Linked DNA regions of Homo sapiens: regions 1, 2, 3, 4, 5 and 6 are each linked to region 7. The links come from fine-mapping of genetic effects on gene expression. A gene starts in region 7. Each other region holds a variant in brackets. All regions are shown on one strand. Distances are from middle to middle.

Evidence for each region.
Region 1: its variant is fine-mapped to the expression of ERV3-1 in pancreas (GTEx, PIP 0.94). The same link has a PIP of 0.9 or more in thyroid.
Region 2: its variant is fine-mapped to the expression of ERV3-1 in spleen (GTEx, PIP 0.95).
Region 3: its variant is fine-mapped to the expression of ERV3-1 in cerebral cortex (GTEx, PIP 0.97). The same link has a PIP of 0.9 or more in hippocampus.
Region 4: its variant is fine-mapped to the expression of ERV3-1 in prefrontal cortex (BrainSeq, PIP 0.95).
Region 5: its variant is fine-mapped to the expression of ERV3-1 in whole blood (INTERVAL, PIP 0.98).
Region 6: its variant is fine-mapped to the expression of ERV3-1 in whole blood (TOPMed, PIP above 0.99).

The regions. Positions count from the first base shown.
Region 1 is chr7:64,861,656-64,865,722 of GRCh38, reverse strand. It overlaps the pseudogene EEF1DP4. Among named protein-coding and RNA genes, the nearest start is that of ZNF273, 40 kb to the left of the region's middle. The variant C/T (reference allele first, on the strand shown) is at 2,361.
Region 2 is chr7:64,888,719-64,892,785 of GRCh38, reverse strand. LOC441239 reads left to right here and starts at 2,686. Exons shown (of 3, transcript XM_011516745.3): 1 at 2,686-3,334; 2 at 3,599-3,720; 3 at 3,969-4,067. The coding sequence starts at 3,047. It also overlaps a transcript of ZNF273 not described here. RefSeq lists enhancers at 2,287-3,003, 3,722-4,067. The variant G/T (reference allele first, on the strand shown) is at 1,765.
Region 3 is chr7:65,507,914-65,511,980 of GRCh38, reverse strand. It overlaps the pseudogene LOC101929322. Among named protein-coding and RNA genes, the nearest start is that of ZNF92, 140 kb to the right of the region's middle. RefSeq lists an enhancer at 1,796-2,794. The variant G/A (reference allele first, on the strand shown) is at 1,941.
Region 4 is chr7:65,301,098-65,305,164 of GRCh38, reverse strand. It overlaps LOC105375334 (a long non-coding RNA gene), which reads right to left. Exons shown (of 6, transcript XR_927613.3): 2 at 1,363-1,636. Among named protein-coding and RNA genes, the nearest start is that of ZNF92, 71 kb to the left of the region's middle. The variant G/C (reference allele first, on the strand shown) is at 2,325.
Region 5 is chr7:64,962,391-64,966,457 of GRCh38, reverse strand. No RefSeq gene overlaps it. Among named protein-coding and RNA genes, the nearest start is that of ZNF117, 27 kb to the left of the region's middle. The variant TA/A (reference allele first, on the strand shown) is at 2,293.
Region 6 is chr7:65,079,201-65,083,267 of GRCh38, reverse strand. No RefSeq gene overlaps it. Among named protein-coding and RNA genes, the nearest start is that of SNORA15B-1, 11 kb to the right of the region's middle. RefSeq lists an enhancer at 1,779-2,673. The variant G/C (reference allele first, on the strand shown) is at 1,979.
Region 7 is chr7:65,004,632-65,008,698 of GRCh38, reverse strand. It overlaps ERV3-1 (endogenous retrovirus group 3 member 1, envelope), which reads left to right and starts at 2,012. Exons shown (of 2, transcript NM_001007253.4): 1 at 2,012-2,158. It overlaps ERV3-1-ZNF117 (ERV3-1-ZNF117 readthrough), which reads left to right and starts at 1,953. Exons shown (of 4, transcript NM_001348050.2): 1 at 1,953-2,158. LOC105375330 (a long non-coding RNA gene) reads left to right here. Exons shown (of 6, transcript XR_927607.1): 6 at 1-25. RefSeq lists a silencer at 1,752-1,921 and an enhancer at 2,022-2,081.

The DNA.
Region 1 (4,067 bases), 140 kb after region 7:
GCTCTATCTTTTGTTGTCTTAATGTATTCCTAGCCCTATGACTGCTTTAGGGATGAGAAGAGCACTACTTTGCAAGTCATGGGTTCTAGTCCCAGTTCTGTCCCAAACTTTCTGTGTGACATTTGTCTGAGCCTCGGCTTTTTAAATTGCAAAATGGGACACAAGCCCCTATTTTGCAGAGCCTCACAGGATGTAAAGATCAGAGAAAAGATAGGTAGAAAAATATTTTTTAAACTCTAGAGTGTTGTATGAGAGTGAAAGATTGCCGGTTACCTAAAATCCTGAGAAAGAACATGCCAGCTTCCAAATCAATTTTTGTACTTTTTCATTTTCTTCTTCAACTTTAGATACAAAAAATATTTTTGGGTTGGGGGCAGGGGGGAGGGATAGCATTAGGAGATATACCTAACGTAAATGACGAGTTAATGGGTGCAGCACACCAACATGGTACATGTATGCAGATGTAACAAACCTGCACATTGTGCACATGTACGCTAGAACTTAAAGTATAATAATAAAACAATATTTTTATTAGGTATGCTTTTAAGAGAATCCTATTGAAAACCAAACCAGTGGGTTTTTTGGAAAGTATTTTAATTTACCCATTTGTGTTAAAAATATTGCAGTGTAAGTATGCATTTCTAACTTTAATGATAATTTCTCTCAGCTCCTTTAACATTTATTTCTCTGATTTTTGGCTCTGTGCAAGGTTTGAAAACTTTACTTTCATTTTTGTAAATTATCTTTATTCTTCTCACAGATTTGTAGTGTTTTTCTTCTCCTTGGTGTTATGCAGCCCGTTTTAAGTAATTTATTTTTTTATTTTAAGGAATTAATTTTGTTATTTTTCTCTTTTTGGAACACTGCACATTTGAATTCAAGCACTTATATCTGGTTTTCACTTGATTTTAGCCAAAAGGCTGAGAAGTAATTATGTCTGCTTTTCAATTTTAGAAACTTATGAGTCACCAACTCTGAATACTGACTTTGATTTTGAAAATATATTCTATAAAAATAATCAGACTTGTTTTACTCCATCTCATGCTCCCTGTCATACATGTATATTTTAGATTTTGTTAATATAACTTTTCTCCTTTTGTCTTTACAGTAATTAATTACTGCTTAGTGTTCTAGTTCACTAATCTTCTCATCATTTCAGACTAATTTAATGTTTCACACATATGTTGTATATTAAGTAGACTGATTATATTTTCAATTGTTTACTTCACATTTGGCTGTTTTTTCTTTTCTTTTCTTTTTTTTTTTTTTTTTGCCGGTCTCAGTTTTTAATCATGGCGGGGCCTCAAGCACATGCACGCGTGCACACACACACACACACTCACACTCAGTCTTCAGATCTTGTTGAAAGCTGCAATGTCAACATTCTGCACGTGTTCTTCAAACTTGATGATCTCCTCCTCCAGCAAGTCTGTCCCCACCTTGTCATCCTCCACTACACACTGAACCAGCAGCTTCTGGATACTATAGCCCACGGGCACCAGCTTAGAGGCCCCCCCAGACCAGCCTGTCCAGCTGGATGGAGCACATACAGGCCTCCAGCTGGGCCATGTTAGTCTCATCATCCCAAGGCTTAATGTCCAGCAGGATGGACGACTCGGCCACCAGCATGGGCTTCTTGGCCTTTTTCTCTGTGTACTGCCGCAGCCGCTCCTCCCGCAGCAGTACTGCCTCCTGTCCTCCTCCTCATTGTCACTGCCAAACAGGTCAATGCCAAGACCAGCTTGGTTGGGGAGACCCTAACCCAGTGGCGCTAGAGGAATTAAAGACACACACACAGAAATATAGTGTGTGGAGTGGGAAATCAGGGGACTCACAGCCTTCAGAGCTGTGAACCTCAAACAGAGTTTTGCCCACATATTTATTGACAGCAAGCCAGTGATAAGCATTGTTTCTATAGATCATAGATTAACTAAAACAGGAAACAAAGCGATGGGCTGAAACAAAGGGATGGGCTCTGGCTAGTTATCTGCAGCAGGAACATGTCCTTAAGGCACAGGTCGCTCATGTTATTGTTTGTAGTTCAGGAACACCTTTAAGTGGATTTCCCACCCTGGGTGGGCCAGGTGTTTCTTGTCCTCATTCCGGTAAACCCACAACTGTCAGCATGGCTGTCATGCCCATCACTAACATGTCACAGTAGTGCAGAGATTTTGTTTATGGCCAGTTTTGGGGCCAATTTATGGCCAGATTTGGGGGCCTATCCCCTGTAGGTCAATGTCATCGTCCTTGTCATCCTCTGCTGGTTTGGCTGGCTTCTTGGCCAGGGGCTCCACTTGGCACATAGGAGACTCGTGCTGGGTCTGCAGGGCTGTGGTGGCCAGGCAAGCTCTTCTCCAGCA[C/T]GTTCAGTGGGGCCTCCAGCTTGGAGATGGCCTGCTGCAGCTCCTGCACAACCCTGCGCAGGCTCTGGTTCTCCACTTCCAGACTGGTGATCTGAAAGATGAGCTCAGCCTTGTCTCCGCTGGGGCTGCTGGAGGCCCCGGGGCCTGAGCTTCTGGCCAGGGATTTCTGGAAATGCTCTCTGGCTCTCGCAATGTCATGGAGGATCATGCTGGCGCCGTTCTCCTGGCGGGAGGTGCTGGCCACAGCCTTGTTCATCTGCTTGAAGAATCTCCTTTCTGCATTGTCACATTTTAACTTGTTGAACCAGATCTTCTCATGTACTAGGAAGTTTGTAGCCACTTTTCTGATGCCAGCCAAGGACGCAGTGACCAGGAAGGAGGAATCAGCAGATGCGGGACGCCTGAGGAAAGGCTGGCTGTTTTTCAAATATGGCTTGTTGCTGGGTGTGGTGGCTCACACCTGTAATCCTAGCACTTTGGGAGGCCGAGGCGGGTGGATCACCCGAGGTCGGGAGTTGGAGACCAGCCTGACCAACATGGAGAAACCCCGTCTCTACTAAAAATACAAAATTAGCTGGGCATGGTGGTGGGTGCCTGTATTCCCAGCTACTTGGGAGGCTGAGTCAGGAGAATCACTTGAACCCAGGAGGCAGAGGTTGTGGTGAGCCAAGGTCATGCCATTGCACTCCAGCCTGGGCGACAAGAGTGAAACTCTGTCTCAAAAAACAAAAAAACAAAACAAAACAAAAAAACCCCCACATGCACAAAAAACAAACAAATATGACTTGTCACCCTTGTAGCTTCTTGTACTTTTCACATTATTGGTATATTTTCTGTTTTCCCCATTGTGTTGGATTAAACATTTTAAACCTAAGTCCTGTAACTGTGGGTAATATAAGTTGTAATTTGTTTCTCGCTTGTGAAAGATATTACGTTTGCAATGTCTGCAGTTAGTTTATGTTGTTACTTTTATTTTTATTTTTGTAGAAAAGGATTTTTATTTTTTTTTAGGGTGATTTTTAAAAGTTCTAGGGTACATGTGCACAATGTGCCGATTTGTTACATATGTATACATGTGCCATGTTGGCGTGCTGCACCCATTAACTCGTCATTTACATTAGGTATTTCTCCTAATGCTATCCCTCCTCCCTTATGTTGTTATTTTTTCATTTGTCTAATGGCAAGTTGGACAACCCACAGAAATTTTTTATTTGTGTGTTCACCCATATCTAAGAAGAACAATTGCTTCTTAGTTTAATTACATTCTGGATTCTTCCTTTGGCTTTCTTTTGTACCTGGAAAGTTCTCATATGTTTCTTTATATTCTACTCAGGATTTTAAAGGTTCTTGTAACTTTCTCAGAATTTTAGCATGTAAATTATTTTTATATTTAAAGATTTCCAAATATATAATATCTTTCCAAAATGCACAAATATCAACAGCATATACCTGAGGAAAATATTTTACAATTTTCTTGTGTGGCAGACAATAACATCTTATGAGAAATCTCAAGTTACATCAGTTAGAACATATTCTTTCCTCAATATACCAAAAAAAATTTTTTTTTTTTTGAGATGGAGTCTCACTCTGTCACCCAGGCTGGAGTGCAGTGGAGCGATCTCGGCTCACTGCAAGCTCTGGCTCCCGGGTTCACGCCATTCTCCTGCCTCAGTTTCCCAAGTAGCTGGGACTACAGGCGCCCGCCAC
Region 2 (4,067 bases), 120 kb after region 7:
TGCTCCATGCAAATGACATACCTGGTCCAACCAATCTTTCGTGCCCTGTGTAAATCAAACACCGCCCCCCTCATCAGGCATCTATAAAATCCCATGCATTTCACTGTGGATCCTGCAGCCCATTTGGGACCCCTCTCTCTGCAGCACAGGGAGCTTTTCTCTTTCTTCCACCTATTAAACTTCTGCTCTTAACCTCACTCTTGTGTGTCCACATCCTAGTTTTTTATGACCATTAGGCAACAAATCTCGGGTATCACCCCAGAAGAACAAGGCTGCTTCATTAGGTTCCTGGAAAATGACACTGAACCCCTGTCCTGGGGAAGACAGAGGATGCCCATCCAAGGTCATGGATTCATTCCTAGCTTCTCTTCTATTTACAATAAAAAAAAGAATAGCTGATATTACTGAGCACTAACTATGAGCCAAGCACTGTTGCTAAGCAAATTACATAATAACTCATTTAATCCTCCCTCAGCAACTCTGGCAGGTCTAGCTGGTTCCAGTGTTTATTTTCCATTGTTTTTCCAAGTGTGGCAGCATTCAAGAGAATTGTTTTCTTTCCTTTTAGGGTTGAATACTGTTTTTTTTGTCTATGAAAGAGGATACTCTGATTTCTCCCAAATGATAAGTTTAAATTTTGTTGCAATATCCAGTGATTTCTTTTCACTGGAAGGAAAGGAGGCATGCAGTTTTATTTCTGTCAGCCTGCTCAGGGCCACAGAGGTGTGGACACCTAGGAGCCAGGGTCATTTTCTGAGGACAATGAGAGTCATTGAAAGGCACAAGTAGGTGAGGGATGGATTGGGCTGCTGGTTTGAAAGTGCAACATGGAGCTTCCTAAGGCACAGGCAGCTTGGAGGCAGAGAGGCCAGTGAGAGGCAGGAGCAGCAGCCCAGGCTGTCACCAAGGAGGGGACAATGTGGTAAAAATGGAGAAATGCACATGGGTCTGAAAGGTTTAGATAAATGTGGATTTCAGCACCTCCTCTCCCACACCCCACTTATCAGCTGTGAACCTGGGGCAAGGCACTCTTTTCTGTGTCTTTATGACTTAGCTGAGGTGACCACTAAGTAGGAAAAGTGCCTGGCTGGTGATACATAATAAGTAGCTGCAAGTGGTAGCTTTCTTCCCTACCCACTTGAAGCAGAAATTGGTGACCAGTTTTTCTCTCTGAGTCATCCAGCTGGCACCAGAGAAATTCTGATGCTGCTTGTTCAGACAGGGCCACAACGATGTCTGGGTGACATGGCAAATCTGATCCTTGGACCAGTTTGGAAAAGATGGGGAAGGAGACAGAGCCAGAAAAACTGGGCCAGATGCCTGGATTCCAATCATACCCAGGCCTAGGCCCCTCTGGTTCTGGCTGTGCTGTGCCTGTCTGGGTCCTGAGCCAAGTGATACTTGGTTCTTACCCACAGGAAGGTCACCATAGACCAAGGAAAACTCACAAATACAAATACACCATCTTCTCATGCTGAGGCTTTATTAAGCCCCAGTGGCTACTCTGGGAGAGAGGTGCCATTGTCTCCATTTTAAAGATAAGGAAACCACAGCTTACAGAGAGATATGGCCAGAGTTGTCCAGCCTCGGAGTGACTGAGGCAGAACCAAAGTCATAACTTGTCCAGCTGCAAGGCTTGAGTTTTCAGCCTAGCCCAGAAGACATCATCCTGCCCAGGCCTGGCTGCAACCTCACCCACCTGTGACTCATTTCTGGGACCACTGGCAGAAAGAGGAGGCTCTATTTTGAGCAATGGGGAGCCCA[G/T]GCCAAGCACAGCCATCTGCCCCTGCAGAAATGAGTGGGGCTGAAAGCTTCATGGTTTCCAGGTTTTCATATCTACCCTGAGCCAACAAAGGCTTGTGGCTGTTGGCACACAGGCAAATTGTCCAACCTCCAGATGGAGCAGAGCAACGGTGAAGGAAGCCTGCTGGTTCTTGTCTCACCTCAGCCACTTCTGAGCTCTGTAGCCTTGCACCAGCCTTTGCCCCATCACTGAGCCTGTTTTCTGCCTTACAATGGGGACACTGATACAAACCACACACACAATGAGGATGAAAACAGATAACAGGTAAAATGACCTCACCTGCCAGGGAGTCCATGCTCAGAGGACTCTCATGCTCTTGGATGGAATATTTCCTCAGAGAAATAGAGCTTGGGGGTCAGGGACATGGGACCTGCCACTGACCTGCTCTGTGACTCTGAGACAGTGGCTTCCACTCTCTGAGCTCAGATCCCCACTGGGCAGGCTGCTCTGATCTTCTATGTCCCTGTGTTGGGAAGGGAGTTCGTCCTCCCCAGCTTGTCAGGGAACCCTTGGCCATGGCTGAGGGCAATCTGGCCCCAGTGCCCTGGCTTATTGGAACAGCAGGAAAAGGCAAACACAAAACCCAGACCGCAGCTGATCACGGAACCTGCTCTCCTTGACCCACAAGGATTTGTTGTGATCCAGCCAGCCTGTGACTCTGTCCACATGCTGCTCCTCTGCAGGGATGCTGCTGTTCACTCCTACTCTACTGAGACACGCAGATGTCCTGGCATGGGAGAATTCCCTCTCTCTCTCTCTCACACACACACACACACACACACACACACACACCCCTAACCTGCTTCCTCCAGGCTCCTAAATCACCTGTCCACAAAACCTGTCTTCAGCGGCCCCTTAGCCTGTGAGCTGCCCTCATTCCCCCTCACAGCCCTGAGTGAGGGTGTGCAGCCTCCTTGGGCAAGAGGATGCGGGCTCTGGGAGGCTGCGTCGCACATCTCCAGTCCCCACTGCAGGGCCTCTCACCGGCTGGGGCAGTGACCCCTGGTCGGAAGCACCTCAGTGCTGCTCATGATTGCAGAGGTGGCCTCACCAGATAGAGGGTCCTGGAGGGCGTGGGGGCTTGGTCTCTGACTGCCAGCAAAAGAAGCCGACATAGAGGCAGCAGGCGACAAACACTGAGGCAACTGACTTGCCCGAATTTAACCCTCAGGTTTTTTAAATAAAATGCAAGTGCAGGGGCTTGGGCTCGGGACTCCTGGAGCCCCGTGGGGCTGAGCGTGGATGGTGCTCGGTGTCCAGCTACACTCCCAAACCGCATCCCGAGCGTTTGCGGGGCGGAGGGGCCCCAGGGCGACGGTTCCAGAACAGACCCAGGCGGCTCCGGTCAGCAGCAGCCCCGCTGCTTTCCAACAGCGCGGGGACCCCCATCCCCGCCAGCCCCATCTCACTGTCCCTCTCAGGTCAGAGGAGACCGTAGAGGACCGCGTGGCACCAGGAGCTGCCAGGAACCAGGGCGACCTAGAAGAAACCGGGAACCTGGCGTCCCGCGGGGACGCAGCCCCAGGAAAGGTGAGGCCACCCGAGCCCGAGTGGGAAGGGGCTCCGCGCTCCTGGTCACCCGCAGGAGCCGCACGGCCCTGCCAGATGACCCCGGGCCGGACCCTCAGCACCAGCTGTTGGGGCGGAGGGGACGCGGTGGGTACGGCTCAGGCACCGGCGGGCGAGAGCCTGGACACTGCCGGGAGCCCGACCTCCCGGCCCTTTGCGGGCGGGGAGCGGGGCCAAGGAACAGCGCCAGCCCCTCTCCACAAGCCGGTGACCCCATGACTGCAGGGGCTGCCGCCGCCAGCAAGTGAGCTCAGCTCAGCCCGGGCGTCCCCTCCGCAACGAGGCCCGGATCCCTGCTTGGCTCCCGGAGCCCGGACTGTGCCTTCCGCAAAACGGCTGCGCTCTAGGTAGGAGAAACGTTCTTCGCTTCCTGCTTTGTGGACACTCGGTTCCTTGTAGGCGGTTCTGCTTGGCCCCTTGCCCTTATTAACCTTGACCACGGCGGCTGGGTGGACAGGGGCTGGACACCCTGGGCTCCACCAGAGTTTTCTCTTGCAGGGTGACTTGGACTCTGGCACTCAGGGCCTCCGTTTCCCTGGCAGATAGATGAACATGGCTTGAGCAACTTTGTGTTCAGACGGTTTCTTCTTTCCAGAAAGTGGCCTCCACAGTGCACTTCCCGGCAGCATGGAGTCGGCAGTGGCAGCGTTTCTATCCGGCTCTGCGGGGCTGGGTGTGAACGGGACTCTCCCAT
Region 3 (4,067 bases), 500 kb before region 7:
TCTAGTTAGTTTTGAAGACAGGATCTAGAGATTATTTCATATGAAATAGGTCACCTGAAATGAAGTGTTTACTGAAAACAGCTTGGATCAGCCCAGTTTTCTACCACTGAACCATGCATTTGGTTTAAAAAACACAACAACTCTGGGGAATATTGGCTGCTTCCAACTGTGTTGAAGGTGTTAAAGAAAAGAGCATAAAAAATGATCATCTGAGGCCTTTATAATCTCTGCTCAAGAGACTAGAGTGTTCCATTCTTAAAGAAACACTCAAATATCTTAATAATCGGGCAAAATCTAAATATCAGAGAGATAATTTTATCTTGAAGGTTGTTAAATTATAATGGTTATTCACTACCTTGCCACGTCTCTGAGTCAAAAATTAGATCTTTGTTTAGGAATCAATGGTACTCTGCAACTTGGAAATAGGAAGATTTTAGAAGACTCAAACATTGACTTTCTTGTGTGCAAAAAAAAAGACGTATTGAGATAAGACAAGTTTTTCCTTGCAAGGATACCTCTAATGCTAATACACCACCTCCCCTAATGTTAATATAGCTTCAAGATCACCAACCAGTGTCAGAGAGCAGCCTATGCAACTACAAATTCAAAAGATGTCGAACACAGGGTCAAGCCTAGAATAAGAAGTCTTAGCTAATTAAGTATGCTTTTTTCCCCAGATCCATATTAACAAAAACTTGGATATGTCAGAGAATGCATTCTAAGTTCACTCAACCTAGGAGGGAGAAACATAATTTTAAATTAAGAGCTGAAGCATTCTTGCCCTAACAAAAAGCAAGGAAAATCAAATATCACACCACAGGCGGGATTTCACAAATTAGTGTCAACATCCAAACCTTAAAATAGGCAAGGAAAATGCAGATTCACAATTAACTCTTGTACTTGTTTTGTTCAGAGAAGAGATGGTTCTGAGAGAATGACAGTGAATTAACCCCAACTGGTTTAGTTGGTACTTTCAATTGCTGCTTCTGATAAACTCCTTTAGCTAGAATAAATTGATTAGGATTTTGGCATGTGATATTAGAGATGGTTATTAATTTTTTCCTCTTATTTGCATTGTTCAATGTAGTAAATACTAGCTGTATATGGCTACTTAAATTCAAATTAATTACAATGAAATGTACTTAAATAATGAATTTTTTAGTCACTGTTGGTTCATTAATGAATATCTTCAGCTAAGATTTCCCAACTAAATACACTAAGAGGTGGCTTAGTTAACTGGTTGTCCACAAAAATTGAGGCTGTTAACTCCTGATATATTCTCTGCAAATAGAATATTCAGTGAGCCTCCTCCTGAAACCAGCAGCCTAGAGATAATTTTATAAATTGGATACAAGTTGGAAATCTATAGTCTTTAAGTTTTTGAAATATCAGCTTCCCAGGGAAGAAAACCAAATTCATAAGATATGTTAGGACAATTTAACTCAAGATGTTCAAAACTGAAATGACATATTCTACAATATGTGATAAAACCACCCCCTAACAACTTAAAGCAAAACAAGGATTGACCTTAAAGACCTGCCTTTTCCTCATCCCCCAGCCAGTTTTCAAATCTTGCATTTTTGAAAGGTTCTTATCCCCCTAGTCTCTTGTTTCTAGACTTTGCACATATTCAAGTTTGTTACGTCTATTTACTGACTTTCCTCTCTTCAAACAGTATCTATGTCTGCCAAATGTGAACATACAAAAAACAAATCAGAATGTGCCATTCTGATTTAAACTGCTTATTAGTTAATACCCTCAAGATAACATCTAGGTTCTTAGCTGCACTGAGTCAAGCCCACTTACATCTTTGTTTTCGGGTGCACTTTTCCTATCACATCACACTCCAGCAATGCCAAGCTGTGCCAGCCTTCTACCTCCTTTCCACTATTTTGCCCCCGCCGAAGCGGCCTTTGAAGCTTTTCGTCCCCCGGCGCCGC[G/A]GCTTTTTGCCACCCCGGGTTTTTGCCGCCGCGGCTTTTTGCCCCCGCCGCCGTGGCTTGCTGCCGCCGCTGCCGCGGTTTTTTGTGGTTTTTTACCCCAGCTCCCACTGCTTTTTGCCCCCACCGCGGCGGCTTTTTGCTGGTTTTCGCCCCTGCCGCCGCGGCTTTTTGCCCCCGCCTCAGCGGCTTTTTCTCGCCGCGACTTTTTTCACCCGCACCGAGGCTTTTGCAGCTTTTTGCCCCCTGCCGTCGCGGCTTTTTGCCTCCGCCGCCGCGGCTTTTCGCCCCCGTCGCCGCGGCTTTTGCGGCCTTTTGCCTGGGCCGCCGCGGCTTCTTGCCCCCACCGTCGCGGCTTCTTGCCACCGCTGCTTTTTACCCCCGCCACCGTGGCTTTTTGCCCCCGCTGCCGAGGTTTTCTGCCGCCGCTGCCGCGGCTTTTTGTGGTTTTTTTGCCCCAGCTCCCACTGCTTTTCGCCCCACTCCGCCGCGGCTTTTTCCCCCGCCGCCGCGCATTTTTGCCACCGCGGCTTTTTGCCCCCGTCGCCGCTTTTTGCCGCTGCAGCTTTTTGCCCCCGCTGCCGAGGTTTTCTGCCGCCGCTGCCTCGGCTTTTTGTGGTTTTTTGCCCCAGCTCCCACTGCTTTTCGCTCCCCCCTCCGCGGCTTTTTGCGGCTTTTAGCCCCCGACGCCGCGGCTTTTTGCGCCCGCCGCCGCGGCTTTCTGCTGCCACGGCTTTTTGCCCCCCGCCGCCGCGGCTTTTTGCCCCCCGCCGCCGCGACTTTCTGCCCCCGCCGCCGCGGCTTTTTGCTCCCGCGGCATTTTGCCCCCTGCCGCCGCGGCTTTTTGCCCCCGCCGCCGCTTTTTGCCGCCGCGGCTTTCTGCTCCCGCCGCCGCGGCTCTGAGGGCGGGAGCGGCAGACTCCGCTGCCAGCTCTACTGGCGTCCTGGCAAGGGCAGCGCCGAGGGGCTCTCCCGGCTCGGGGGTTCCTTGCCTAGGCGCCCGAGCCCCGGGCTCCCTGCCTCGGCCGCTGTGGCCTGCATAGGGCGGCACTGCGCGCGGAGGCGATGGGAGAGAAGAAGGAGGGCGGTGGCGGGGGTGATGCAGCGGCCGCTGAGGGTGGCGCAGGGGCCCCGGCCAGCCCGGGGCTGCAGCAGTGCGGACAGCTCCAGAAGCTCATCGGCATCTCCATTGGCAGCCTGCGCGGGCTGCGCACCAAGTGCGCTGTGTCCAACGACCTCACCGAGCAGGAGATACGGACCCTGGAGGTAAGGGGTTTGGGGACCCGGGCTGGGCTCGAGCAGCGGCCCGGACACCTCCCTTGGGGCCCCAGTTCACTCCTGGCCGAGTTGCATCCTTGAGCCCGCGTCGCGCCCTTGGAGGCTTCCCCTCCCTCCTGCACTCGCTGATGCGGCAGCCGAGAGACCCGGGACCAGCCCTCACCTTGGGCAGGATTTGTGGGGCGGGTGCTTGGTGGGAACTGGGATGGAGGCGCTAGGGTCCCGTGGGGCGGGGAGGGTGAGGGTGGGCTGCGCGCGGACATCCCCTTACCCCCGAATTTCCATCTGGTCCGGCCCTCTCATCTTGTAGGTGAGGAAACCAAAGGCCCGAGGGAGAACTGACTTGCCAGGAACCCCTGTTAAGGAGAATTACCAAAGTGTGGTTATTAAAGGAGAACTGAGTTGGGAGTCAGACCTGGAGTCCCACACCCTTGGTTAAGTCATTATACCACCTTGAGTCTGGCCTGTTGACTGAGGGTGAGCCACTCCATCCTCGTCTGATTGTGGGGTCTTGACCTCAAGGGGTTTCGTGCAGGAAGAAGCAAATGGGTTTGCTTTCCTAGCTCTGTCCAGTACCTTAGGGACCCTGAGGACTGAAGCGATTCTTGGAGAGCCATCTGGTGTATGTCATGCGTGGGCCTTTCTTGAAGGTCTGTCTGCCCAGTGGGCTGGCTCAGCCCGAATGAACTGTCTTGAATCTTTGGAGTTGTCTGTGTACTTTTAAGGGCTTCTCATCCTTGCACCAAAAGATCCCCTGGAAATTAGGTGGGAAAACCTTACCTTTTGTGGGGCCTTGTGTTTGTCTTAAAAGTTCATGCACATGGCCAGGTGTGGTGGCTCACACCTGTTATC
Region 4 (4,067 bases), 300 kb before region 7:
GCCTTGTAAGAGTCATGTTTACCATTCTGACATTTTTGGGGTCCTGTGGATCTAAGTCTGTATACTTTCTATACATTTGACAGATCTGTTCCATAAATTCTGAGGGGTCCTCATTAGGTTTCTGCTGAAGTTCCTGCACTTTGTTCAGACTTTTAGGTCTCAGCACCCCTACCTAATGTCCTTTAGAATACACCTTTTACAATGCTACAGACAATTATCTCCAGCTACAATGGCCTCATTTGGGTCCAAATTTGGGTCACTGCATGGAATCAGCTCATCAGGGTCTAGGGTATCATCAGGGCTTTCATCATGAAAGTGCTTTTTTTTCTCCTTTGTCTAATACTAGCCTTCTCTCATCTGCAGTAAGCATAATATTTAGGAGGGCTTGCACATCAGCCCAGGTAGGGCAATGGGTGGCAAAAATAGTGGTAACTGTTCAGTCATCTTCTGGGGTTCTTCCCTGTAGGAAGGACTGGAACTTTTCCAATTCAGTAAATCAGATGTGGGAAAAGGGCTTCATGCTCAGTAATATCCAGCCAGAGGCTCTTGCTGATTAACTCCCGTGGGATATTGTCAGAAGGGAAATTGTCCTGCCCCAGGCTTGGTAGCTCCTCAGCCAAAATTAGTGCCTTGCCCAGTTCAGGAGGGAGAGACTGTGTCTGTAGCCTCTTTGAACTTTGGGGGTGGTGACTCTTCACTCTCTTGACTAGGTGGTGGGACACTAGCTTTTACTGGATTAGGCATGTATAGCAATTGCTGACTCTAGCTCTTTTTCTTTCTTCCTCTCCCTCAGGGTCAGGTGACACTTTGTCTGGGTAATGCAACATTAACTCACTCCCTTTAACCTCTTGGTTATGTAGCAACATAAGTGCCTGAATGTAGGGGAATTTTTAAACGCTTCCTCCCATTTCCTCAAACATTGACAAAACAGCTGTAACTGAAAGATATAATAGCTTAAAGACCCCAAAATTGGCCACCATTTTTTGGATCCTAAAGCATACATTAGCCAAACCATATTACAATAGTAAACCATTTTCCTCTTAGTCATGGGGGTAACCTCGTACTATTTCCAATCTGACAGCATTTTTCCCAGAGGGCTCCCTGAGGGAAGGAAAGCAGCACTTTCCATTTTAAGTCTGACAAAACCACAGACATGAACATGGAGACAGTTTCAGACAAACACAAAAGGAAGCGTACTTGGGTAAAACAGATCTGAAATCAGCTTCAGGTTTACTCCTAACCAAATAGCAACTGAGTATAAAAATGAGCCCTACTATTTTCCTGACGGTATCAGACCAAACGGCTTAATAAGCCCAGATAAGAAAATAACAGGCTTCCTGCATATGATCCAGTTTTACTCACCCTTTGAGTGCATCCACTCCTGCCTGATCACCATTCTTCCCCAGTGGTGAGAGGGACATGTGGTTTTTGCACATGGAATAGCCCCTGGGAGAGTCCCCAGGACAATCTTATCCAGCAGCTTCTGGGAGTCTCCAAATGACCATCTCGCCACAATCACGGGCCACTGAGTGCAGCACCATTTCAGTGACTCTTGGCTAGCTTGCCAGATGTTGTTCCTGGACCAAACTGGGTCTGGCTGTGTGTTCTTGTGGCCCAATAACAAGATGCAGACAAACTGGGAAAGAAGAGAGTTTATTTCTGTAAACAAGTACAGGGAGGAGGTCAAAGATAATTCCCCAGACCAACTCAAGACTAACAAACATTTTTCCATTGCTTATATATGTTTCAAACTGTATGCTTATGTGCAGTATCATACTGACCTATGTCTACAGGTAAATAATTTTAACTAAAAGCTCAGAGACCAGAAATGTACCCTAAATCTACTTAATCTACGAGGGCCCTGGTACTAGGGTGATTAAGAAATGTCCCCTATTTTTGCTCTACTTAATCTGTGAGGGCCCTGGTAGAGGAGTGATTAGTTCTATCTTATATTACCTATGGTTTGGGTCTGGAGAGTTGCCTCAGATGCCCAATAAATTTATTTGACCCAAGATGGGTCCTGGTACAAGGAATGTGGGGCTATCTTCATTATCTTGACTTGCCCCAGGTTTTAGGAGAAACTTGCGCAAGACTCTTACCAAACATATATTTCATTTCTGGCTTTGGTGTCCAGGGATTGATGTTTCTAGGGTTAAGTACTAACTTAATGTTAAGGCAGATGCTGTGAAAGTTTGCCTGTATAACTTGAGTGCTATGGAGGCCTGTCTGTGTGACTGCTAGAAAAAAATTGGCCTGTCACACTAATAGGAGTGTGTATTCAGGGAAACTGTAATCTGTGCTCCCCTGTGGCCACCCTAAATTTT[G/C]CCATACCTAAACTCTAAACAAGATTCTGACTTTTTGATTATATTAAGTTGATGGTTCTCAGTCTCCACTGACCCTGGGAGAGAAACAGAATCATAGGACAATTCTCAGTGTGACAGCCTCTGTGCAGGAGAACAGAGCCTCCCTTCCATGAGACACCCGGAGTCTACCCCCAGCCCAGACACCCATCTGAAAAGCACTGGTCGAGACTCACAGGCAACCACACGTTCTTACCTCCCCTAATGTATCTCACTAGAGACACTTAGGCCAAATCTCAGAAGCCTGAGCACAAAAACTAACTGCCTTTCTTTCGGGTATTTCTCAGGGCATACTGTCAGGAATCATTTCCACATGAGAATGAAGGTGTTTTTATCCAAGAATGCAACAAGGGAGCATGGTTTAATAACATCTGGTTGGAATGGATGGAAGCCCTTAACAAAGATGCCATTATGCAGTGATGATACACAAAGCAAGTTGTGAAACATGTCAAGTAACAAATTAGATTATAGCACCATCGAAATGTGATTCTGTTGTTTTTGCTTACTTTCTGTGTGTTTTTTCTATTATGTTACAATATATCCCCTTTAAGTCCTTGTATTTTCTCATTTAAAAGTCTAGGGCTGGCCAGGTACGGTGGCTAACGCCTGTAATCCCAGCACTTTGGGAGGCCAAGGTGGGTGGATCACCTGAGGTCGAGAGTTCGAGACCAGCCTGACCAACATGGAGAAAACCGTCTCTACTAAAAATACAAAATTAGCCAGGCATGGTGGCGCACACCTGTAATCCCAGCTACTTGGGAGGCTGAGGAAGGAGAATTGCTTGAACCCGGGAGGCGGAGGTTGTGGTGAGCTGAGATCGCGCCATTGCACTCCAGCCTGGGCAACAAGAGTGAAACTCCATCTCAAAAAAAAAAAAAAAAAAGTCTAGGGCCAGGTGTGGTGGCTCATGCCTGTAATCCCAGCACTTTAAGAGGCTGAGGTGGGTGGACTGCTTGAACCCAGGAATTTGAGATTAGTCTGGGCAACATGGTGAAACCCCATCTCTAGAAAAAATACAAATGTTAGTTGGGTGTGATGGTGTGTACCTGTGGCCCCAGCTACTTGGAAGGCTGAGGTGAGAGTATTGCTTGAGTGCGGGAGGATGGATTGAGTCTGGGAGGTGGAGGTGGCAGTGAGCTGAGACTGTACCATTGCACCCAGCCAGGCAGCCAGCCAGACAGAGTGAAACTCTGTCTCCAAAAAAGATCTATTGCTTAAGCTAATTTTTAAAAAATTTTATTTTTCAAATATACTTTGAAAGCAATGACTCTTTAAAACATTATCTAAAGATTTTATACTCAAAATACCATTATAGTTTAATATTTCTGTTGCAAAAAATTTTACTTCTTGGCTGTGTTCTAAAGTTTTATATCTAAGGTATTTTTAGAAACATTTAGTTCAAAAGAGTGACGATACTGTGGTCAACATGTGCAAGATTTTAAATGAGAAAATAACCATTTTATATGCTGTGAAAAAAATCTCATAGCTGTAACTGGTTAGAATTGACATGAAGGCAGCTGTCTTAATGCAAACACATACAAAGAAACAGACAAGCAGAGCACCACTGTGGTTTGCACCAGGCAAGATAAGGAGAAGAGGGAAGGCTGATGCAAGTGTGGTTAAGGACTGAAGCTTAGGTGGTCCCAGGAAAGCCTCGCTGAGAATTAGGTTTTAGTAATTAAGTAATGGAGGGCAAGTGAGTAGTTA
Region 5 (4,067 bases), 42 kb after region 7:
TAGTCACATGCAGAAGAAAAAAACAACTCTTACCTCTCAGCATATAAAAAATGTAACTCAAGATAGATTAAAAACTGAACATGAAGTTTCAAGCTATGAAAATCCTATATGAACACCTAGAAAGTACTCTTGTGGACACTGGCCTCTGAAAACAATTTGAGACTAACACCTTAAAAGTAAATGCAACAAAAATATAAATTGACACCTAATTAAACTAGATCTCCTGCACAGCAAAAGAAATTTGACAAAGTAAATGGACAAGCTACAGCATGGAGAAAAATATTTGCAAACTGCATACAACAAAAAAATTAATATACAAAATCTATAAGAAATGTAATAGGAAAAAAGCACAGAATATATCAATAGATACTTCTCAAAGGAAGATATAAAAGCTGTCAAGAAACATGCAAAAAGTTGCCCAACATCTCAAGCCATTAAAGAGATTAAATCAAAATGACAATGTGATACCATCTCACACCAGTTAAAATGGCTGTTATTAAAAAGTAAAAAAAAAAATAGCATGTTGTGGAGAATAGGGAATGTTTACACAGTCTTTGTGAGAATGCAAATTAATTCAGCCTTTTGTTGATTAATTCAGCCTCTTGTTGGAGCCTCTACTTCAACAAAAGATGCCATGAATTTCAAGTTATTATGCTGACACATATATTGTCTCTAGAAGGGTTCTGGTTTTTTTGCAATCAAGGTGTAGCATTTCTGGCTTCCCTTGTGCTGCTTTGTTTGTGTGAAATAGGAAGGTAGGAAGTAAAACCAAGTAAACCATGACATTTCTATTTTCTACAGCCACAGCATCTGAATTCTAGTGTTATGTCAACTAGAAATAATGTCAGTATTTCAAAACTGACAAAAAGAAATTGATACTTTATCTTTTTAAATGTTTTTATAGATTATAAAAATTTATAGTTTCTGAATTATATAAGTTAAACAACCTGAACATGCAGATACCTAAAAGTTTTACCTAGATAATAGTATTAATATTTTAATAGGTTATGATTGTGAGTCACAGTTGCCCCATTGAGTTTACTGGAAAGCGGTTATTTATCTTCTGAGTGTATGTAGAGAATAGGCTTTCATAATCCTAAACAAAGAGATCTTTTAAGATTAGCACTATATTTAGATTTGAATAAAATTCATAGGCTTGTAGTAACAGAAATTTTAATATATTTTCTAATAGAAAAAAGTCAATCGAAATAAGTTATTCAGATGAGTTTTAAAAAACTTCACGTGTTCATTAAATAACATTTAAAATTACATTGTAAGTGACTGATTTGTAATTCCAATCTATTTCATTTTAGTCACTGAGAAAACAATATCCTTAAATTATTCAATCAGAAAAAGTATTCTTATATTAGTGTTTCTGAAACTTTCAGAAACTGTAGACCACTCAGTGGATGGGGAGGCATATGCAGACCACAAATTTTCTATGTAATAATAGGTTCATCTTAGCTTTAATATAAAAATTAAATATATTTCAAAAGTAAAATTAGTGGCTTTTTTAAGTCATGAGAGACATATTATTGTTAGAACCCATTTGCCAAATTATTTGTGTTAGGCTTAGTAATAAGTGCTTTCAACCAAAAATCAAGTTCTACATACTATCTCAGGGTAAAAAGAAAGTGGTTTTTATCTTATTTATTTTTACCAATAAAATATTTTTATTTTTAAACTGTTATTTTAGATTTAGAGGGGGTACACCTAGCCTTTCTAGACTTCCTTAGTAATTGGTAAATTTCTCTTTTTATTTTGTCATTATTACTTTTTCTGCACTCAGGCTGGAGTGCAATGGCGCAAACATTGCTCATTGCAGCCTTGAACTTCTGGGCTTAACATATTCTCCCTCCTCAGCCTCCCGAATAGCTGAGACCACAAGCACAAGCCTGTGTGCCCAGCCCATTATTATTACTTTTAATGTCTGCTAGTTCCTGGGGTGCACAGAGATTTAAAGGTCACATTCTTCCAGGGTTTGGGCATAACATGAGCACTGGAATTAAATAGGTAGGTCCCACAGGGAAGGCAGTGCCCAGGAGAATAGAATCTAGGTGTGGGTGTGACCACTCTCCTTCTCAACTTGGCTCTTTCTTCTTGTTTGAAGAGACAGAGTAATACTGGGAGGCAAAAAAGGACCATTGGCTTGGGGTCAGAGGGTGTGATTTGAGGTCTGGAGTTGATCTCTTAAAGGCTATGTGAAGTTGGCACTGTCTCCAACCTTTCTCCTGCAAAATGAGAAAACAAGGCTGGATGAACTGAGTTCGCTTTCAGTCTTTTTTTTTTTTT[TA/A]AGTTTTTTATTTCCATAAATTTTGTTTAACAGGTGGTATTTGGTTACATGAGTAAATTCTTTAGTGGTGATTTCTGAGATTTTGGTGCACCCATCACCTGAGTAGTATACACTGAACCCAATTTGTAGTCTTTTACCTGATGCCTTTACATCCTTATAGTTTAGCTCCCAATTATGAGTGAGAACATACAATGTTTGATTTTCCATTTCTGAGTAGTATTCAATTATATATATACATACATATATATATATATACACATACATATATATATATATATATGTATATATATCCACAGTTTCTTTATCCACTTGTTGATTGATGGGCATTTGAGTTGTTTCCACATTTTTGCAATTCCAAATTATGCTGCTATAAACATGCGTGTGCAAGTTTTTTTTTTTTTTTTTAAATAATAACTTCTTTTCCTCTGGGTAGATACCCAATAGTAGGACTGCTGGATCAAATGGTAGTTCTCCCTTTAGTTCTTTAAGGAATCTCCACACTGTTTTCCATAGTGGTTGTACTAGTTTACATTCCCACTAGCAGTGTAGAAGTGTTTCCTTTTCACTCCATCCACACCAACATTTATTATTTTTTTATTTTTTTATTATGGCCATTCTTACAGGAGCAAGGTGGTATCACGTTATGGTTTTGATTTGCATTTCCCTGATCATTAGTGATGTTGAGCATTTTTTCATGTGTTTCCTGGCCATTTTTATATCTTCTTTTGAGAATTGTCTATTTATGTCCTTAGCCCACTTTTTGACGAGATTTTTTTTTTCTGGCTAATTTGTTTCAGTTTGTTGCAGATTCTGGACATTAGTCCTGTGTCAGATATATAAATTGTGAAGATTTTCTCCCGCTCTGTGGGTTGTTGTTTACTTTGCTCACTTCCTTTGGCCATGCAAAAGCTCTTTAGTTTAATTAAGTCCCAGCTATTTATCTGTGTCTTCATTGCATTTGCTTTGGGGTTCTCGGTCATGAAATCCTTGACTAAGCCAATGTTTAGAAGGGTTCTTCTGATGTTATCTTCTAGAATTTTTATAGTTTCAGGTCTTAGATTTAAGTCCTTGATCCATCTTGAGTTGATTTTTGTATAAGGTGAGAGATGAGATCAAGTTTCATTCTTCTACATGTGGCTTGCCAAGTATCCCAGCACCATTTGTTGAATAGGGTGTCCTTTACCCACTTTATGTTTTGGTTTGCTTTGTCAAAGATCAGTTGGGTGTAACTATTTGTGTTTATTTCTGGGTTCTCCATTCTGTTCTGTTTGTCTATGTCCCTATTTTTATACCGGTACCATGCTGTTTTGGTGAGTGTGGCCTTATTGTGTTGTTTGAAGTTGGGTAATACGAAGCCTTTTGATTTGTTTCTTTTGCTTAGTCTTGCTTTGGCTATGCAAGCTTTTTTTTTGGTTCCATATGAATTTTAGGATTGTTTTTTCATAGTTATTTGAAGAATAATGTCAGTACTCTGATGGGAATTGTATTGAATTTGTAGATTGCTTTTGGCAGTATGGTCATTTTTAGAGTATTGATTCTACCCATCTATGAGCATGGGATGTGTTTTTATTTGTGTCATCTATTGCTTTCAGCAGCATTTTGTAGTTTTTCTTGTAGAGGTCTTTCACTTCCTTGGTTAGGTATATTCCTAAGTATTTTATTTTTTGTGCAGCTATTGTAGAAGGGGTTGAGTTCTTAATTTGATTCTCAGCGTGGTCGCTTTTGGTATATAGCAAAGCTACTAATATGTGCACATGGATTTTGTATTCTGAAA
Region 6 (4,067 bases), 75 kb before region 7:
CAGGAGAATCGCTTGAACCCGGGAGGTGGAGGTTGCAGTAAGCCGAGATGGCGACATTGCACTCTAGCCTGGGCAACAAGAGCGAACTCCGTTTCAAAAACAAAAACAAAAAGATATTAGCCAGATGTGGTGGCGCCTGTAATCCCAGTTATTCAGGAAGCTGAGGCAGGAGAATCGCTTGAACCCAGGAGGCGGTAGTTATGGTGAGCAGAGATCATGCCACTGCACTCCAGCCCAGGTAACAGAACAAGACCCTGTCTCAAAAAAAATAGGGCTACATTATTTATGAAACAGATACTGTTGACTCAGTCACCAGAAAGTGAAGGTCGCCAACATCAGACAAATTCACTGGAGGACCTATGTATGTGCTTTGAAAGACAACACTGCTTTGGTAAAGAATACTGTATTTCAGAAAAACATAATCATATTAACAACTAATAACACTGTAAAATGCTGATGTGTTGAATGCTACTTTAGAAAAACATGTTCAAGTCTAGGAAAAAGATTTCCGATAGAAAACTACGTATCAATTACCTAGCTAGCTAGCTATCTAGAGACAAGGTTTCATTCTATTGCTCAGGATGGAGAGCAGTGGGATGACCATAGCTCACTGCAGCCTTCAGCTCCTGGCCTCAACTTATCCTCCTGCCTCAGCCTCTTAAGTAGCAGGGCCACAGGTGGACACAGGTACACCTGGCTTTTTTTGTTTGTTTTGTATAAACAGGGTTTCACTACATGGCCCAGGCTGGTCTCAAGCTCTGGAGTCTTGCTCTGTCGCCCTGACTAGGGTGCAGTGATGCTTCTCGGCTCACTGCAACCTCCGCCACCTGGGTTCAAGAGATTCTCCTGTCTTAACCTCCTGAGTAGCTGGGACTACAGGCATGCACCACCATGCCCGGCTAATTTTGTATTTTTAGTAGAGATGGGATTTCTCCATGTTGGTCAGGCTGGTCTTGAACTCCCAACCTCAGGTGATCAGCCCGCCTCAGCTTCCCAAAGTGCTGAGATTACAGGTGTGAGCCACCGCGCTCGGCCTAATTTTTGTATTTTTTTGTAGAGACTGGGTTTCACCATATTGGCAAGGATGGTCTCAAACTCCTGACCTCAGGTGATCCACCCGCCTCGGCCTCCCAAAGTGTTGGGATTACAGGCGTGAGCCACCGCACTTTCTTATGTTATTAAATAGCCTAGCCCAGGAGGGTGCGGTGGCTCACGCCTGTAATCCCAACAACTCTAAAGGCCAAGGTGAGAAGATCGCTTGAACCCAGGAGTTCGAGACCGGCCCGGGCAACATAGCAAGACCCCCCCATCTCTACGAAAGATACAAAAATTAGGCCAAGCGTGCACCGCGCCTGGCTAATCTTTGTATCTTCCGTAGAGACGGGGTTGCGTCATGTTGCCCAGGCGCATCTCGAACTCCTGAACACAAGCCATCCTCCTGCCTCGGCCTCCCAAAGTGCCGGGATAGCACGGCCCAGGCAGCCTCATGTGTTCTTTAAGCAGTCCCTCCCGGTTGTACACTTGCATAGTTTTCTTTTTTATTTTTTTATACAGGGTTTACCTCAGTCTCGCAGGCAGGAGTGCTGTGGTGAGATCACAGATCATTGGAGCCTTGAATCTTGGGGTTCAAGTAGCTGGGAGGCTGAGGTTGGACTACAGAGGTGGGGTTGCGCCATATTGCTAGGCTGCTCTTGGCCTGAAGGGATCCTCCTTCCTGGCCACGCCCGGACACATAGTTTTCCATTTTTGACCGACATAAATACTGTGCTGGGTGGGAGTTTGTCAACTACCCCTTTCCAGCCAGCAACACACAGGAACTGGCGGGGAGGTCGCGGTTACCAGGCTCCACTCTGAGAAGACTGCCCAGCTCCAGGCACTGTACAGCCCTTGTGACGTGACAGAAGGCCCGCCCCTGTGACGTCACCGAAGGCGCCCCCCAAGATGTCGCAAAGGCCCGCCCCTCACGCAGAGCCAATCG[G/C]AACTCCAGGTGCTGGGTCTTCCAGGAGAGCGCCTGCGCGGGAGGGTGACCACAGGCGGCCGGGCGGGATGTCCTGTCCGCCGTCTTCAGCCCAGCCGCCACCACCCATAAGCTATGAGGAGGAGTTTACGACCACCTGGACTACTACCACCTGCGTGACTTCCCGGCCTGAGGGGTCCGCGCAGCAAAGGCCTGACGCTGCTGGAGCAGGCGCTGCGCACCTACCGGCTGGCGCCTGGTAGGCACGAGTGCAGGGTCGCCCAGAAGCTCCTCAATGGCCGGCGCAAGTGCCAGCCAGCGCCAGCTGCAGCCCTGGCCGCGCACTCGCCTCAGCTGAGCCTGGGTATGTGCACCCCCCAACACTTCCCCCAGCCATGTTCCCGGGACCTCGGGAGCGTCCCCCACCGCCCGGTGCCATTCGTGCTGGGCAGGGTCGGCCCCCTTTGAGGCTGCCCCGCGTTAGGGAGCTGCACCGCACCCCCACCAGCTTGACCTCTGACTGCCGTTGCAATAGCATTAAAGCCTTTGGAACTTTGTAGGTGGGTAGAAGGGGCTAGGAAACGAAGAAAACATCTTTTTAAAAATTTATATAAGGGACTGGCCGGGTGCGGTGGCTCACACCTGTAATCCCAGCACTTTAGGAGGCCGAGTGGGTGGATCACCAGGTCAGGAGTTGAAGACCAGCCTGGCCAGCATGGTGAAACCCCGTCTCTACTAAAAATACAAAAATTAGCTAGGCGTGGTGGCGGGCGCCTGTAATCCCAGCTACTCGGGAGGCTGAGGCAGAGAATTGCTTGAACCCGGGAGGTGGAGGTTGCAGTGAGCCGAGATCGCGCCATTGCACTCCAGCCTGGGCAACAAGAGCAAAACTCCGTCTCTAAATAAATAAATAAGATTTTCAAGGCGAGGCATGGTGGGTCACACCTAAATAAGTAAATAAATAAATAAAATGGATTTTCGGCTGGGCATGGTGGCTCACGCCTGTAATCCCAGCACTTTGGGAGGCCGAGGCGGGCGGTTCATGAGGTCAGGAGATCGAGACCATCCTGGCTAACACGGTGAAACCCCGTCTCTACTGAAAATACACACAAAAAAAAATTACCCAGGCGTGATGGCGCGCGCCTGTAGTCCCAGCTACTGGGAAGGCTGAGGCAGGAGAATGGCGTGAACCCGGGAGGCATAGTTTGCAATGAGCCGAGACCGTGCCACTGCACTTCAGCCTGGGTGACAGCGAGACTCCGTCTCAAAAAAATAAATAAATTAAAAAAATAAAATAAAATGGATTTTCAAGGCCAGGCATAGTGGGTCACACCTATAATCCCAGCACTTTGGGAGGCCAAGGCAGAAGGATTGCTTGAGCCCAGGAGTTCGAGACCAGCCTGGGCAACAGGGCAAAACCCTGTCTCTATCAAAAGCACAAAATAAGCTGGGCATTATAGTGCACACCTGTAGTCCGAGCTACTCAGGAGGCTGAGATGGGAGGATGGTTTGAGCCCGGGAGGCAGAGGCTGTATTGAGCTGAGATCATACCACTGAACTTCAGCCTGGGTGACGAGCCAGACCCCGTCTCAAAAAAAAATAATAACAATAAAAATAAATTCATATAGTTTGGTATGGTTTAGTAAGTTTCAGCAGGCAGATTGTCAGGGTAAGATGGATTGTTATATATACATTTATATATATAATATGTATATTTATATACTTATTTATTTTAGCAGAGATAGGGTCTCCCTATGTTGCCAGGCTGGTCTTAGACTCCTGAGCTCAAGCAATCCTGCCTCGGGTTCCTAAAGGAAGCTCACATTGGAGGTGTGAGCCACCACACCTGGCCTATAAGGGGAATTTAAGGGACTCTCTACTATGATGTCCCTTCTCCCAATCCCTTTCCGCATGTAGAAGAGGGTTCTGTTGAGTGACTGGCATTTGCTTATATTTCTCAGTGCTATGCCCAGTGTAATGGAAAAGGCACAGACTGGCTCAAGAGCCCAGGGATTTCAGTTCCAGGCCAAGCTCATCCACTGACTGACAGAGTCAGTCAAACTTGTTTGGATTTCAGATTCTTCATCTGAATAACGTAGATAACACTTAT
Region 7 (4,067 bases):
TCTTCAGCCTCCTGAGTAGCTGGGACTACAGGCATGCACCACCAGACCTGGCTAATTTTTTTGTATTTTTAGCAGAAATGGGGTTTCACCATGTTGGTCAGGCTGATCATGAACTCCTGACCTCAAATAACCCACCTGCCTCGGCCTCCCAAAGTGCTGGGATCACCTGCCCCAGCCTCCCAAAGTGCTGGGATCACCTGCCCACTCCCTTGGTGAGGAGCCCCCTAGGGCACCTCCACCTCCTAGAGCACAAATGTTGTTGAGATGAGCAGCTTGAGACATGGTATGGACCTATGCGGAGGTGTCCCTAGACAATGATGGCATCAGAGTGAGAGGCTGGATGAGGATGTGTCTGGGGGAGCTTCGAGGTGCTGTGATATGTAAGAGATCATTAATTACAGGATGCCACCCCAAGGAGAATATGCATGGACCAAAGATGAGGGGTCCCCAGGAGGGTAAACCAATAGTAATGCCCCCAGATTCCATTCCTAGCCAGGCTCCCTGCTAAGTGACAATTAGAAAAATTCCTCTTTACAGAAAACAGAGCATCAATTAGGTCCCCAACTACAGAGCCAGTCCTCTACCCTCCAGTGAAACTTCCAGTGGGCAAGAAAAGCTTGGGAAAGCCAGAAGGAATAGGAACCACAGCTCAGGCCGGGCCGAGGCTTCATAAATCAAAAGGACATTTTTTTTTTAAGAGATAAGGTCTCACTCCATCACCCAGGCTGGTGTGCAGTGACCCAATCATGCCTCACTGTAGCCTTGAACTCGTGAGCTCAAGTTATCCTCCCAGCTCAGCCTCCTGAGTAGCTGGGACCACAGGTGCACACCAACACGCCTTGCTAACTTTTATTTTTATTTTTGAGACACAGTCTCGCTCTGTCACCCAGGCTGGAGTGCAATGGTGCGTTCTTGGCTCACTGCAACCTCCACCTCCTGGGTTCAAGTGACCCTCCTGCCTCAGCCTCCCAAGTAGCTGGAATTACAGGTGCACGCCACCAGGCCCAGCTAATTTTTGTATTTTTATAGAGACAGGGTTTCACCATGTTGGCCAGGCTGGTCTTGAACTCCTGACCTCAGGTGATCCGCCCACCTCAGCCTCCCAAAGTGCTGAGATTACAGGCGTGAGCCACCGTACCCAGCCCATGGCTAATTTTTAAACTTTTTTGTAGAGATGGAGTCTCACTATGTTGCCCAGGCTGGTCTCAAGCTCCTGGCTTCAAGCAGTCCTCCCACCTCAGCCTCCCAAAGTGCTGGGATTACAGGCATGAGCCACCATGCCCAGCCGCAGAAGGGCAATTATTACACAGTGACAGTGGAAGGAACAGAGACACAGTCGGTGGATGGTGGGAAGATAAGAACATTCACTCTGAGGGCTTCTAGTAACGTTGGAGAAGTGAGCATCAGCTTAGCAGAAGGGAGGGAGGGAAGGAAGCACAGGAGGTTTGAGGAGAGAGAGAGAGGAAGTATGAAATCAGAGCTGCACTTCAATGTGGTGGCTATTGGCCATGTGTGGCTACAGGATAGCTGGAATATGGCTGGTCTGAACTGCGATGTGCTAGAAAGGTAAAATACAGGGTTAGATTTAAAGATTTAGTTCCAAGAATATATACACTACATTAATAATTACATATTGCTCCTATACTAAAATAATATTTTGGATATATTGGGTTATTAAATGGTTAGAATGAATTTCACCTGTTTCTTCTTTCTTCTTAACTACTAGAAAATTTAGAATTCACACATGGCTCACATTTTATTTCAGACGGTTGCCTTACAAGGCAAATGCCGTCTGGGGAGGGCCTGGGTCAGCTCAGGGAGGAAGCTCTGCCTGAAAAGGCTTAGGGTTCACTCTACATTCAGCCCAGCATCTGAGCACGTCTTCTGTCAATCAAGGCCTGAGAGGGTGGGGCCCTAAACATTATCCAATCAGGGACGCTGGGCTGGGACCCGTCCAATCAGGCACTCAGCTGGAGCAGACAGGACGGCTTCCGGGTTTGGTGGGGCCTTTGTCTCTGGCGGCAGCCGGAGCTTCTGGTGTAGTCTTCACTGCTCTGTGTCTTCTGCTCCTAGAGGCCCAGCTTCTGTGGCCTCGTTACCTGCAGGTATTGGGAGATCCACAGCTAAGACGCCAGGACCCACTGGAAGCCTAGAAATGGTGAGAGTGCCGGGTCCGACATCCCGAGAGAGGGGGCGGGGCTGGTTGGAACTGGTGGGAAGTGGCTGTGGCGGGACTCTGGCCTCCCCGCAGCTGGCTCCAAAATCCGCGGCCCCGAGTTCTCCTTGGCGCAGCTCGGCCCTCAGTCCCCTTCAGCCATAGGATGGCGGCCGGGCTGACAGCTCGGACCCCGGGCATCCTGTCTCCTCCCTGCGCAGTGACTGTGCCTTGTTCTGGAGTCCTCTGTGGGCAGCTCTGCCCCCACTGCCGCAGCTCTCCCCGATTGTGCAGGGACCACTGGACGGTCGTCAGGGGAGAATACTGACTCAGGATGCAGAGTTCATGAATGGGAAGAGCTTTGGTCTGCGGGGTTCCCAGTCCCCCTTTTTTTCTATTAAAAATTTGTGGAAGTCTCCGCAGAAATATTAAAGAATTTAATTAAAGAGTAATTCAAGAATTGTAGAGCACCAAGCTATGTTTTGTAGTTTGTGGTTTATGGAAGGGGCTTGAAGAAAACACTTTTATAAAGTGCATGATAAAGGAAAGCAAATTCAATAATTGGTTAGGTAAAGTTATGTAGTTTCTTAATTTGTACGATCAAGGTGGAAATTCCCTGGTCATGTAATGAGAGGTTAATTGGCAGTTTATAGTTGGTTAAGCCTGAATTTTATTTTCCCCCAATGTAATACTTTAGAAAAAAATCATTCGAGTTAGATTTTTTTGCAAGTAGCAACCCTAGGACTGGAGCCACCTCAGTCTAATTGCCTGCCACTTAATTATTTTCACACTCCACAGGGCACTGATTTTCCTCTGCATTTTTCACTTCTGTCTCAAGCAGGGTCTCAAGACTTCTCCCCATTTCCCATTCCTCCAGCCTAACTCTGGCTTGCAGTAAAATACTAAATTTCCAGTTCCTTCTGACATTCCCAAATGCCAATTTCCCCTCCCTAATTCACATTATCAACTATTTGTCCTTTAATGTACACTTTAGTGTACATTTTAGGTACCATATTTTAATTAATCATTTTTTGACAAAGCATTGGCTGGCATTTTAAAAAAGATTTGTTTTCTGTTTGTAAAGATTTCCCAAGAGAAGAAAGCAAAGAATAATCCCCTGACACTGTATTGTAAAAAATGTTCTGTGCCTCCTTTCCTTTTATTGCCTCTAGCCACAGAAACCTTATCAGAATATTTTTGGGTCAGGGTTTCCCTTTGGAAACTTTATAAGGTAATGTGTCCTCAGCCACCCTTCAGTTTTTTCCCTGGTTCTGGGTTTCAGTACTGTCTGGGGATAAATCAAGATATCCACTGTGGCTGTGTATGCTACAATGTCTAGTAAATTTCAGCTCCTGGCCTGGAATGAAACTTCGCATATCTGGGAATGGGAGACAGGACAGCCTGAAGTTGGAGTGTAGCCTCTCAAGGGAGCAGGTGGATGCCCTGAGGCTGAGAGGAGTCTCCTGGGGTACTCTTCCTTTGAAAAGCAAACCCTTAGAGAAGTTAAGATTGTCTTCAAGCAACCCGGGTTCCATTTCTCGAAGACACATTGCTGGTCAGCCAATCAGATGGTGGTAATGAGGGAAAAACAAATAATTACTGCCACCTGGATTCTCCAAGAATTATGAAAGAGAAAATAGTATCCCAAAAGACAAAAAAAAAAAAAAAAAAAAAATCAAACCTGGCCCCAGTGAGATGGTGCAGCAACTTGCAAAGTGAAATGCACCTTGGGGCACTCAATGGGGCCTAGTACAGTGTCTCTGGAGAGGGTGGTCACTGAGCACTTAAGTGAGCAGGATGGGGGTGGGAGAATCTCTCAAGGGATTGGGTGGCCTGACTTGACATATGAGTCAAACACATCTGTTTTTTAATGAGCACCGTAGCTCCCTGGGTTTGTCACCTTGAAAAGGTT